Homo sapiens: one gene and its partners. The protein of the gene in region 2 interacts with the protein of the main gene of each other region in a biochemical or structural test. Each region holds a gene or a part of one and is shown on either strand. Other genes may lie near its edges.

The links.
Region 1: of the proteins of IRAK4 (region 2) and PELI2, one has a biochemical effect on the other in vitro, tested with the Homo sapiens proteins (one study listed by BioGRID and IntAct).
Region 3: of the proteins of IRAK4 (region 2) and EIF4EBP1, one has a biochemical effect on the other in vitro, tested with the Homo sapiens proteins (one large-scale study listed by BioGRID).
Region 4: of the proteins of IRAK4 (region 2) and H1-6, one has a biochemical effect on the other in vitro, tested with the Homo sapiens proteins (one large-scale study listed by BioGRID).

The regions. Positions count from the first base shown.
Region 1 is NC_000014.9:56,282,379-56,285,952, reverse strand, and holds part of PELI2 (E3 ubiquitin-protein ligase pellino homolog 2), read right to left. Parts: intron 1-3,574. UniProt on the Homo sapiens protein: E3 ubiquitin ligase catalyzing the covalent attachment of ubiquitin moieties onto substrate proteins. Involved in the TLR and IL-1 signaling pathways via interaction with the complex containing IRAK kinases and TRAF6.
Region 2 is NC_000012.12:43,772,423-43,775,996, reverse strand, and holds part of IRAK4 (interleukin-1 receptor-associated kinase 4), read right to left. Parts: intron 3,086-3,574; coding exon 2,925-3,085; intron 2,033-2,924; coding exon 1,968-2,032; intron 1-1,967.
Region 3 is NC_000008.11:38,057,659-38,060,898, reverse strand, and holds the end of EIF4EBP1 (eukaryotic translation initiation factor 4E-binding protein 1), read right to left. Parts: intron 996-3,240; coding exon 964-995; 3' UTR 534-963; downstream 1-533. UniProt on the Homo sapiens protein: Repressor of translation initiation that regulates EIF4E activity by preventing its assembly into the eIF4F complex: hypophosphorylated form competes with EIF4G1/EIF4G3 and strongly binds to EIF4E, leading to repress translation.
Region 4 is NC_000006.12:26,106,867-26,109,346, reverse strand, and holds H1-6 (histone H1t), read left to right. Parts: upstream 1-1,211; 5' UTR 1,212-1,253; coding exon 1,254-1,877; 3' UTR 1,878-1,935; downstream 1,936-2,480.

The DNA of each region.
Region 1 (3,574 bases), on a different chromosome or scaffold from region 2:
TATCTCATTCTGTATTTTAACAAACATTTCACTGCTGGGCAGAGGGAGTGCAGTTTGAGTAGCCCTGCTCTGGCGTAGTCTCCCACCTTTAAAAACGCTTTCCTTCACCTGCAAGCAAGCCCCAGGCTCCAGCCCTGTTTCTCTGATTCACTTAACAGCAAGACTTCTTGGAAAACCTGTTATCTCCTCCACTTCCTCACCCATATCTTTAGCTTCCTTCTTCCTCAACCCACTCCAATTGAGCTTCCTTCCCCACAACTCTACTGAAACCACGCATGCTAAGATTCCAAAAATCAATATATTGCTAAATCCAGGGCTTATGCTGAGCCAGCATATGCCGGTCCATCTCTACCTGGTACTAAAATAATGAAACTTTCAGGCCAGTTGGTAAATAGTCCCCCCTTCCCTTTTCTTTCTGTTCTCTCCCTAAATAGTATCACCAAATCCCACCTAACAGCTCAAAGTCTTCATCTCTCCCCTGAGCTTCAGACCGGCACACCCAATCTCCACTTGTATGTTTGATAAATATCTCAAATGTAATATATGCCAAACAGAACTTGGATCCCCCTTCACCCTGGGGCTTCCCTATATCAATGACTGACTGACATCCAATTTGCTCAAGCTAAAAGTCAAAACCCAAGAATAACCTGATTCTTCAGTTTCCTCCATGCCCACATTAGCCCTGTGTAAACACTGTCAGCTGTACCTCCAAACACATCCTCAATCCTTCTACTTTTCCCATTTTGGTTCTGGTTACCATTATGTCTTACTTGGGTTCTATCACCTTAGCCTCCAAACTGGTCTCCCTGTTTTCATACTTGCCACCTAGATTCTTTTCCATACAGTAGTTTGAGAAATCGTACAAAAACATAAATCAGATTATACCTCTCTCCTGCTTAAAATCCTCCAACAGCTTCCCAAAATTCCTAGAATAAATCTCAGACTCAACCTGGCCTGAAGGTCCTACCTGTCTCAGCCTCTACCTGCCCTTCCAAGTCCATCTGAGTTCACTGCTGTCCTTCTCCACTGTGATCTTGACTTGGAGCCTTTGCGCTCACTGTTTCCTCTGCCCAGAGGGTTTGTTTATTTGTGGTCTGCCTTCTCCAGATGTAGCCTCCTTGAGAGGAGAGCCTTAGTTATCTCTCCCCAGTCATCAAAGGAGTTTCTGACACAGCAGATGGTCAAGAGATGAAACTAGTAATTGGAAGATTATGACAGGGAGGCTGAATCCTATGAGATACAAACATACCTGCACATGCATGCTCATGTACAATGGTTGTAGAAATACCCACTAGAAAATGTAGATATTCTTTAATATTTTCCTCTTAACTTAATAGATACTAATTAAATGTTATCATCTAAAACTACAGTAAATCAACTAAATTGAAAACCAAACCAAACCAAACCAAACAAAAAACCAAAACCCAAAACTGTTAGGCCTTGTAGCACCGCGTTCGAAGCCTGTGAAACTGTGAAATCTGAGAGAAAGGGCCCCTGAACACCGGCTGCAGGGCCCAGTCAGTCTCCTGGCCCCTAAGGTCAGAAGGCACTTGGCACCACACGTTACTCTAGGGACACTGTAAAGACAATGCACCCCTCTAATTCCTTCCATTAACTATTTTCTCTTTTATGTTTCACTTTCTTGTTAGACTTTTCTTTCTTTCCTTGTTTATGCCTACTCCAGAAAATAATGACCAAGATCTTACTCTGATTATATTAACTAACAATTTCTTATACCTTAAATTCAGATCTAGCTTTGATTTTTCTCCTCAGGCAATAATATTTCTGAGTTCTGAGTCTACTAACTGACTCCAACAGTGGGAAATGCAGCATAAAGCCCTTTCTTGGTTCTTTCTGATATTCTGCCTTTAAATACTCAATTAACCCTAGAAATCATTTTAATGGGAATGACTAAAACGAACAAACTCTCCACACTGAGGTCCATACTTCAGAACTATGAGTGCTGTCGCGCTTTTTGCTCAGTGATTTTTGTCAGTAGTAGGCTTTGGAAATATAAACTTGTTAAAAGGAGGAAAAAATGGAAACAAGCCTGTCTTTTCAAGGTCTTATGAGAGTTGCTTAGTTCTCTGCTTAAAATGATCTGCCACAGATCCTTCTAACAGGTCCAGTGAGTCTGTGAATGTAATGTGTTATATTTCCTTAAGAAACATGTGAATTCTTGCTTGGCTTACCATACTTTATTTAAAGAGGCTGAGCTGGTACTATTCAGAGAATGAAGAGCTCAGTGACCTAAATCTTAGCTCTGCCCCTAATGCCTCTTCTCTTCTGGCCTTAGTTTACATTACTTTTCCTTTCAAACACCCATATTTCTCAGCTATGAAATTAAGAGGTTGGTACAAATCAGTATTCTCAGCATGTGGTTGATGAACCCCAGAGGGTCCCTGAGACCCTGCCATGGGGTCTAGGTACATGAGGCCAAAATTACCTTCATAATAATACAAAGACGTTAACTGCCTTTTCCACTGTGCTGGTCTCTATGCTGATGGTGCTAGAACAATGGTGGGTAAAGCTGCTGGTGCTTTGGCATGATTCAAAGCAGTGGCACCAAACTGTATTAGCAGTCATTGTATTTTTCATTGCTGTGAATTTGCAGTTAAAAATTATGAACTTTATTAAATCTTGAGTCTTTCGATATTCTGTATGACAAAATAGGAAGTATGCATAAAGTACTCAGAAGTTAGTAACGGGAAGCTGAAAAAGTCCAACTAAATCTTTTAATTCATTCTGCAGAGATGAGAGGGAAGAAAGTGAGCATGTGAGTCGAATGTGACTGTTCAACAGTGCGGAATACACTATGTGACACGTACGTCGCTAAAGAATATCTATGAAACTCTGAAAAATTCCGAAGAAACAAGATTCTTCTTAAAGGAATTTAATGTCTCACACTTTGAGAGTACCTGACTTACCTATAACAGGTACCATCACAGTAGTTTTTGAATTTAAGTGGTAAAAAAGTATCACTGACAATTGTGAAATAGGCTTTATTCACTTTTTTAGTATTAAGAATTCTCTCTGTAAAAAAAATCTTTAAAATCTTCACTGCTACTGTAAGTAGTAAAAAAACTTATAAATTGAAAATAATTTTAATGAGTATTAAAAAGATATAATAATAAAGTTCCATAAAAATATCAACAGGGGAGAATATACATATACTTATGTAGGAAGATATTTTCCTTAACAGAATAAGAAGACATTTATAAGATTATATAATGGAATGGCATGGAGAGTAAAACCACATTTAGTATTTTGCCCAAACATGATAAATCTTATTTTTGAGTTCAAACTGGCACTTTAATAACTATTTTTATAAATATGACTATATATTTTATCTAAGATTATTTAGTTTTTAAATATCTAACACATACGCATAGTTCCAAAAATCGAAAAGTGTAAAATATCTCCCTGTATACCACCTGCTCAGTCCCTTTCCCCACAAAGGCAACTGCTACATTCATGTCTTGTTAATCATTTTGGAGATTTTTTAATGCATATAAGCATGATTTAAACCATTTTACCATATTAAATTAACATTTAATAATGTAATATTTCATAT
Region 2 (3,574 bases):
GGCGGGAGAATGGCGTGAACCTGGGAGGCGGAGCTTGCAGTGAGCCAAGATCGCACCACTGCATTCCAGCCTGGGCAACAGAGCGAGATTCCGTCTCAAAAAAAAAAAAAAAAAAAAAAAAAGTAATGATATTAAATGAAGGTAAGGAACCAGTAAAGTTTGAAATTGTAATACATTGCTGGTAGTAACTTATCTCAAAAGCCATTTGAATGTGTATTTAGAAAGTCTTTAAAAAGTTCATGCATTCCTACCTAGTAATTCTTTTTCTAGGACTTTACCCTAGATGATAAAGTAAGTATAACTGCATTTAAAGATTTATGTGCAAAGAACTTTAAAGAAGCTTTATTTTTAATACTGAAAATTAGAAACAAACCTAGCTATGGTTAAATAAAATATGATTTTCACATATGCTAGACTGTTGTACAATAATTTAAAATGTTTTCAAATTATTTTTAGTGACATGGGAAAATGCTACACACACATCATGAAGCAAGTATATAAAAATATTAGCAGTGGTTATCTCTGAGTGATATATTTGAGAGATGGTTTGTATTATTAAGTTCCGGGATACATGTACAGAATGTGCAGGTTTGTCATACAGGTAAACGTGTACCATAGTGGTTTGCTGCACCTATCAACCCATCACCTACGTATTAAGTCCTGCATGCATATAGGCTTGTATATTTTAAAAATGTTTTCCTGTATTTTCCAGATGACCTACTGTGAACAAGTTACTTTTAGAATTGGAGAGTAGGGGTAGGAGTGAAGAAGACAAATCCTGAAAAAAAAAGTTTGATCTTTTTTCAGCATGTATCATTTTTACCGTGCATAAATCAATTCTAGTCTATTCTTCTTACTTGAGGTTAGGTAACTATGATTGGTGATTTACAGCAGTGGGTTTAATGGGTATAATTTGGTAAATCCCATTACGATTCAGATCTAAAGTTCAGGCTCCGCAATCAAACAGATCTGGATTTCAATCCCATCTCTAACACTTACTGGCTATGTGATCTTGGACAAGCTATTTAATGTTTCTAAATCTCAGTTAACAAACAAAATGGGCAGTTGTAACAGTTGTAAGGGTTAGACAGACAATGCACATAAAGTACATAGCACAATGTCTGGCATGTTGCACACACTCAAATATCAATCACTATTAATCACTATAATAATTAGAATACATTTCCTACTTTGTCCCTCCTACTTTTCCTGATGATGTCCAACAATTTTCCAGCACACAGGATCAATGCCTTCTAAGCATCCTTACAGATAACATGACTCTAGTTGCTCTATAGATGCTACTTTATATATAAGGGCCTATTACTCTATAGATAGTTGTTTTTAAGTATCTCTACAATTGATCTCTCATGAATTCTGGAAGTGGAAAACATGATAATGAAGGACATGATAGTGAAATTTCACGTAACTTTGTTGTGACTTAAAATAATGACTGCGGCCAGGCGTGGTCACGCCTGTAATCCCAGCTCTTTGGGAGGCTGAGGCAGGTGGATCACAAGGTCAGGAGATCGAGACTATCCTGGCTAACACGGTGAAACCCCGTCTCTACTAAAAATACAGAAAAAAATTAGCCAGGCATGGTGGCACACGCCTGTAGGTCCAGCTACTCGGGAGGCTGAGGCAGGAGAATCGCTTGAACCTGGGAGGCAGAGGTTGCAGTGAGCCGAGATCATGCCACTGCACTCCAGCTTGGGCAAAAGAGCGAGACTCTGTCTCAAAAAAAATAAATAAATAAAAATGACTGCTATTTAATCTCCAGGCATATGAGTATATGTAATCATAGAATTATGGAGCCAAAAGTACTTTCAATTTCTCTAATCTAAACACTTTATTTTAATTTCATATATGTGCAAACATCACTAGTTCATGGCATACTCTAGAGTGAACCAGGTTCTTTACTCCTTGTCTTTTTTCTTTCCACTACACCGCACTGCCAGATTAAGACTTACTTTGCCATTACTTTTATTTCTTGATCAAACTGCTGTTTCAGTTCTTCAGTAGTAATGTCAACCATCTGAAAAAATAAAATATACAATGTAATACTACACAATTCTAAGGTTCCTAATGCTCAGAGGGATCAAGAGATCAGCTGGCTCATCTCCCTTTCTTTAAAACAATAGTGTATTATTCTCCCAATTCTACAGAATAACTGAGATCTAGAAATACTAGTGATTTGCTCAAGGCCCATGGCTGGTTAGTGGAATGAAAAATATATATAAATTTCACTGAGTTGTGGAAACAAAATGAAATAACACGAAATTTCACTACACAAAAAAATTTGAAAAAAATTCTAGGAAACAGAAAACATAAGCAATTTAGGTGCAAAATGGAAAAAAAAACCCTACAAAAGCCCTGCAACATATATGACAAAGAGTGACTATCTTTATCACATACATATGCATTCTATTGATATTTTTAGGCTCTAACAAAAGATTTAGAATATAACAAGTAAGTAAAAGGTAAACACCTCAGTAGAAATGGCAACAAAGGACACAGATAAAAAAAATTTTAATGTTTTTTCTTAATGTATACTTCCTAAATTTTATTTTTAAATGGGAAAAGTAATGCAAACAAGGTTTTTTAAAAATAGTTTTCCTGGTATCTTACCATTTTAATCTTGATTACACATGAAGCACTATGTGGAGCAGGGCTTCTCAACTTTAGTTTGTGAATCTCCCAAAATTGTATGTATGATCTTGTGTACATGGACATAACCACATTTTTCTAGGGGTAGGGTCCATAGTGTTCAACAGATTTTAAAATTTTAAGAACTACTATTTAGAATGATGTTTATTTAAAGAAAATACATACTGAAATAATGTATTTCCTAAAGATTAACTTTAAAACCTATTATAGGGCACACTATGAAGCAACTCTTTCTTTTTATTCCTGAAAATATAACTTACTGCTGCAAGCTTCTTCACTGCCACAGTTGTGTTATTTACGTAGCCTTTATATACAACTCCAAATCCTCCCTCTCCCATTTTATTACCACCAACAGAAATGGGTCGTTCATCAAAGTTATTTGTGACATTCTTCAATTCATAAAATGAAAAACTGTGAAAACCTATGTCAAAATAAGAAAAACATGCTTAAATTTTAAAAATTCGTTTTAATAATTATAATATTTTCTCATTTGAAGATTTCACATATATGCAAATATTTATGATTTTGAATTAGACAAGATGAGAGAAGATAAAACCATTTCTAAAATACAAATTATAAGTTTTTCTTGAGAACTCTGTTTGGTGATCCTACCCTCTGAACACTGTAGTCACCCACCCAAAATTCTAGTCACACATTTGAGTGGGTCTAGTCTACCTACCCAAAACTCTAGTCACATATTTTATTTTAAAAAGTGACCTTTCCAAGTTATGTAAATATTTACTTATTTTTTTTCATAGCTTCTCTGGTTGTTTGCATGTCCTATTGCCTCTAATCACTGATTAATACAATGAAGATGGTTCTTAATATATCAGGAGGAAACAACTCACAAAAGAGCTATTGCCAGTGTGCCTGTGATTGCTGCACAAACAAAAGAGCAAGAGCTTTCTTT
Region 3 (3,240 bases), on a different chromosome or scaffold from region 2:
GTCCCATGTGCCATTCAGCAGCTGCACGATTTTACCTGTTCTTGTGCCAGTCTTCTCAGCTGTAAAGTGAGGATAACAGTTGTTCTACTTACCCACAGGATCAGAGTCAGAATCAAATAAGGACAGGCCCACGCTTTAGAAGCACTGTACAAGGCTGGGCACGGTGGCTTACACCTGTAATCCCAGCACTTTGGGAGGCCAAGGCGGGTGGATCACCTGAGGTCAAGAGTTCGAGACCAGCCTGGCCAACATGGTGAAACCCTGTCTCTACAAAAATACAAAAAAATACTAGCTGGGCATGGTGGCGGGCACCTGTAATCCCAGCTACTCGGGAGGCTGAGGCAGGAGAATTGCTTGAACCCAGGAGGTGGAGGTTGCAATCAGCTGAGATTGCGCCATTGCACTCCAGCCTGGGCCACAAGAGTGAAACTCCGTCTCAAAAAAAAAAAAAAAAAAAAAGCAGCAGCACTGTACAGATAGCAGCTGGTGTTAGTTACCAAACAGAGTTGAAAAAAGCTCAGACGGGGCCCAACTCTTGGCCCTAGGGCGAAGGTGGCTTTTATTTCCTCTCTTGGGGAAGGAGGGGGAGGGAGCTTTCCCAAGCACATCAACCTAAGGAAGGGGTGGTTGCGCCCCCAGCAGCGAGGGGCTGGAACTGCTGATCATTCGGAAGGAAGGGTTCGTTCTTGTCCACTTCCTGGCCCTTGGCTGCAGGGTGTGCTGGCAGGGGTCACTCCCCTTGGGGTGGCAGCTCCTGCATCAGTGGAGGCACAAGGAGGTATCTGCTGGTGTTCACGAAGAGGAGGGGGCAGGTGCCCTGAGTGAGGGAGAAAGGGCTGGGGTGTCCGACCCCACGCCAACGCCTGCCCAGTATGATCACTTTCATAAGGCCTGGCTGGTGGGACTCCTCCCAGGAAGGCCCTGAGGGGCCCCTTGGTAGTGCTCCACACGATGGCTGGTGCTTTAAATGTCCATCTCAAACTGTGACTCTTCACCTGGGGAGAGAGGGGACAGAGGGCCAGGTCAACAATGGGTGAATGCTTGGTATATGAGGCCATTCTTTCATTGCTATAAAGAAATACCTGAGGTTGGGTAATTTATAAAGAAAATAAGTTTTTTTTTGTTTTTTTGTTTTTTTTTTTTGAGATGGAGTCTCACTCTGTCTCCGAGGCTGGAGTGCAGTGGCCCAATTTCGGCTCACTGCAACCTCCGCCTCCTGGGTTCAAGCGATTCTCCTACCTAAGCCTCCCAAAAGAGTAGCTGGGATTATAGGCACCCACCACCACACCCAGCTAATTTTTGTATTTTTAGTAGACCCGGGGTTTTGCCATGTTGGCCAGGCTGGTCTCGAACTCCTGATCTCAGATGATCCACCCTCCTCAGCCTCCCAAAGTGCTGGGATTACAGGTGCGAGCCACCGTGCCCAGCCAAGAAAAGAGGTTTAACTGGCTCGCGGTTCTGCAGGCTGTACAAGCATGACGCCGGCCTCAGCTTGGCTTCTGGGGAGGCCTCAGGGGGCTTTTCGTCATGGTGGAAAGCAAAGCGGGAGCAGGCATGTCACATGGAGGAAGCAGGAGCAAGAGAGAGGGTGGAGTGGCGCTCCCACACTTTACAACAACCAGATCTCGAGAGAACTCATTCACTATCATGAGGACAGCACCAAGCTGTGAGGGATCTGTCCCCACGACCCAAACACCTCCCACCAGGCCCTACCTCCAACACTGGGGATTACAATTTAACATGAGATTTGGGCAGGGACAAATATCCAGACTATATCATTTCGTCTGACTCTTGTTGTTTTTGCTTTTTTCTTTAGAGACAGGGTCTCACTCTCTTGGCCAGGCTGGCGTGCAGTTACGCAATCATAGCTCACTGCAGCCTTGACCTCCTGGGCTCAAATGATCCTCTGGCCTCAGCCTCCCAAGTAGTTGGGATTACAGGCATGCACCACCATGCCTGGCTAATTTTAAAATTTTATGTAGAGATGGGGTCTTGCATTGTTGCCCAGGCTGGTATTGAACTTCTGGCCTCAAGTATTCATCCTGCCTCAGCCTCCCAGAGTGCTGGGATTTCAGGCATGAGCCACTGTGCCTGGCCACCAGCTGATGTTTTTAGGGGCCAGGGACAGCCCCTATTTTTTGAAAGTAGATAACTTGTTTAGTTTCACAGGCTCACAGCTGGAAGGAAATTAAGCTTGAGATGAATCATGCTGTGAGTCTTGTCTGATTCAGATGAAATTCTGGACTTTGAACTTTTGAGCTAGGACTGCAACGTGTTAAGTCTTTGGGGATATGGGGACCAAATTAATATATGTGTATATGAGAAGGACATGAGTTTGGGGGGTCCAGGGCTGGAATGCTATGGTTTGAAATTCATACAGAAACTTAATCCCCAATGTAACAGTATTAAGAGTTGGGGCCGTTAAGAGGTAATTGGGTCATGAAGGCTCTGTCCTCATGAATGGATTAGCCCATTCCTGGATTAATGGGTTACCACAGGAGTGGGCTAGTTATCACAAGAGTGTTATAAAAAGGCAGCTTGGTTCTCTCTCATGTGCCCCTCTTGCCCTGTGATGCCTTCCGCCATGTTATGATGCAGCAGGAGGCCCTCACCAGAAGCCCAGCAGATGCGGGCACCATGCCCTTGGCCTTCCCAGCCTCTAGAACTGTAAGAAATAAACCATTTTTCTTCATAAATTACCCAGTCTCAGGTATTCAGTTACAGCCATAAAAAAACAGACTAAGACACAGGCAACTATTGTCTGTCTTGTACTGTGAGGTTCCCAAGGTAATTATGAATCATGTCCTGCAGGCCCTGGGGAGATTAATTCTGCTGCTGTTAGCAGAGCCAGCCAAGCTGAGGTCCCTGCTGCTTCCTGTCTGGGCCTGGGGTACGGCCTTCCGGGTGAAGGGTCGGCGGGTTCCAATCTGATTATAGTTGCCCGGAAGTGCTTATGCTGCATCATCTTGCAGCAGAGAACTCCAACACTCTGCCAAGCCAGTCAGGATGCCACAAAGAGTGCATTCACTTACACCACTACCACAGTGGCTGCTCTAATTACTCGGGAGGTGGGGACAGCAGGAAGGACCCAGCTACCAAATGTCAAATCGGCAGAGACAACTGGCTGCATTGTTTCTACCTGCCTTCATGAAGATCCACTAGGGGACCAACAGCCCAACAGGAGGCATCCCGGATGTATTTCTTATCTTGTAGACATATAATTTCCCAAAGGACAAGTAC
Region 4 (2,480 bases), on a different chromosome or scaffold from region 2:
CTCAGGGGAGCACACTGGACATTATTCCAACAACCCTTTCCCCACAGCTATGCAGCCAAATCTGCCAGCTCAGTTAATTAATTAAGCAATTCAGAGATGAGGGTCTGCCCAGGCTGGAGTGCAGTAGCTGCGACCTCAAGCTCCTGGGCTCTAAGTGATCCTCTTCAGTCTACCCAGAAGCTGGGACTGCAGGCATGTGCCACCACACCCAGCTAATTTTTTTTTTTTTCAGTAGGGACCAGGCCAACCTAGTCTTGAACTCCTGGCCTCCAGCCTTCCGAAGTGCTGTAATTACAGGCATGAATCACTGCGCCCAGCCAACCCGCCCAGTCTTGTTAGACATGGGGTCTGTAGTTTCTAGTAGGTTCTTGAGTCTAGGGTTCCTACCTCATGTTTTATAGTTAATTTAGGGGAGGGACTGTGTCTGTTTATCTGGGGATGTAGGGGTGGGCAGGGGGATAGAGGGGACTTCAATTAATGAAACCAGAAGCAAAACTCAGTTGAGGACACCGGTCATGAGAGTGGCCTGATTATGGCCAATCTTACATAATGTGTGAGATCTTGATATTACCCCATCCTTGAGAGTCCTCTATAAAGCTACAGGGACTTGGGAGCACCTTTAATTACAGACAACCCATGTTCCTGTGGATTATGATTTATTAGATTGCACATGCCTAAATAAAGACATCCTCTGCAGTCTTTTGACAATTCTATAAGCATCTTCTGACTCCGCAATTAGACAGCTAAGAGATCTGTGTTACTTCCCTCACATATATAAATAATTTTAAATAAAAATCATGGCGTGAATAATTTCTTTCCTCTACCGATTTGAAGCTATCCATTTGGAAGACCACTCTGAAGAGATGAAATAAGTCTTCTGCCAAAGATTACTTATTAATTTACAAGGAAAAGGGGAAGTTTTGTTCCTCTCCGTGAATTTGATTGAAAATCGAGGGCTTTCTCGAATAGTTTTGGCATCCAGGGTCATTTTTCATTAAAAAGAGAAAAGTCATGTCAAATATGAATTTCCGCAGATTATTCAGCACTAGACCCTGGGAGATTCTGTAAAGAGGGGTTTTGTTATACTCAACTTTTCCGGGTAAAACAAACACAAATACTCCTCCTCCAAGGGGCGGGGGCGGTGCCTAGGTGATGCACCAATCACAGCGCGCCCTACCCTATATAAGGCCCCGAGGCCGCCCGGGTGTTTCATGCTTTTCGCTGGTTATTACATCTTGCGTTTCTCTGTTGTTATGTCTGAAACCGTGCCTGCAGCTTCTGCCAGTGCTGGTGTAGCCGCTATGGAGAAACTTCCAACCAAGAAGCGAGGGAGGAAGCCGGCTGGCTTGATAAGTGCAAGTCGCAAAGTGCCGAACCTCTCTGTGTCCAAGTTGATCACCGAGGCCCTTTCAGTGTCACAGGAACGAGTAGGTATGTCTTTGGTTGCGCTCAAGAAGGCATTGGCCGCTGCTGGCTACGACGTAGAGAAGAATAACAGCCGCATCAAACTGTCCCTCAAGAGCTTAGTGAACAAGGGAATCCTGGTGCAAACCAGGGGTACTGGTGCTTCCGGTTCCTTTAAGCTTAGTAAGAAGGTGATTCCTAAATCTACCAGAAGCAAGGCTAAAAAGTCAGTTTCTGCCAAGACCAAGAAGCTGGTTTTATCCAGGGACTCCAAGTCACCAAAGACTGCTAAAACCAATAAGAGAGCCAAGAAGCCGAGAGCGACAACTCCTAAAACTGTTAGGAGCGGGAGAAAGGCTAAAGGAGCCAAGGGTAAGCAACAGCAGAAGAGCCCAGTGAAGGCAAGGGCTTCGAAGTCAAAATTGACCCAACATCATGAAGTTAATGTTAGAAAGGCCACATCTAAGAAGTAAAGAGCTTTCCGGGAGGCCAATTTGGAAAGAACCCAAAGGCTCTTTTAAGAGCCACCCACATTATTTTAAGATGGCGTAACACTGGAAACAAGTTTCTGTGACAGTTATCTATAGGTTTAAGTTGTGATGCAGCTGAGTTGAAAAGGCTTGAGATTGGAGAATTAATTCAGGCCAGGCTTCAAGACCATCCTGGGCAACATAGCCAGACTACCATCTATACCAGGGGTCCTCATTTCCCCGGCCACCGACCGGTAACCGGTCCCTGTCCATGGCACGTTATGAATTGAGCCGCACAGCTGAGGGGTGAGCGAACATTAACCAACTGAGCTCCACCGCCTGTCAGGTTAGCTGCAGCATTAGATAGATTCTCATAAGCTCAAACTGTATTGTGAATGGCACATGCAAGGGATCTAGGTTTCAGGCTCCTTGTGACAATCTAATGCCTGATGATCTGAGGTTGGAGCAGTTTTAGTCCGGAAATCATTGCTCCCAGCCCCTGCACCCCCTGGTCCGTGGTATAATTGTCTTACACAAAACGGTCTCTTGTGTCAAAAAGGTTGGAGACTACTGGTTTTACAAAAAAGTAAATTAGTCAAGCATGGT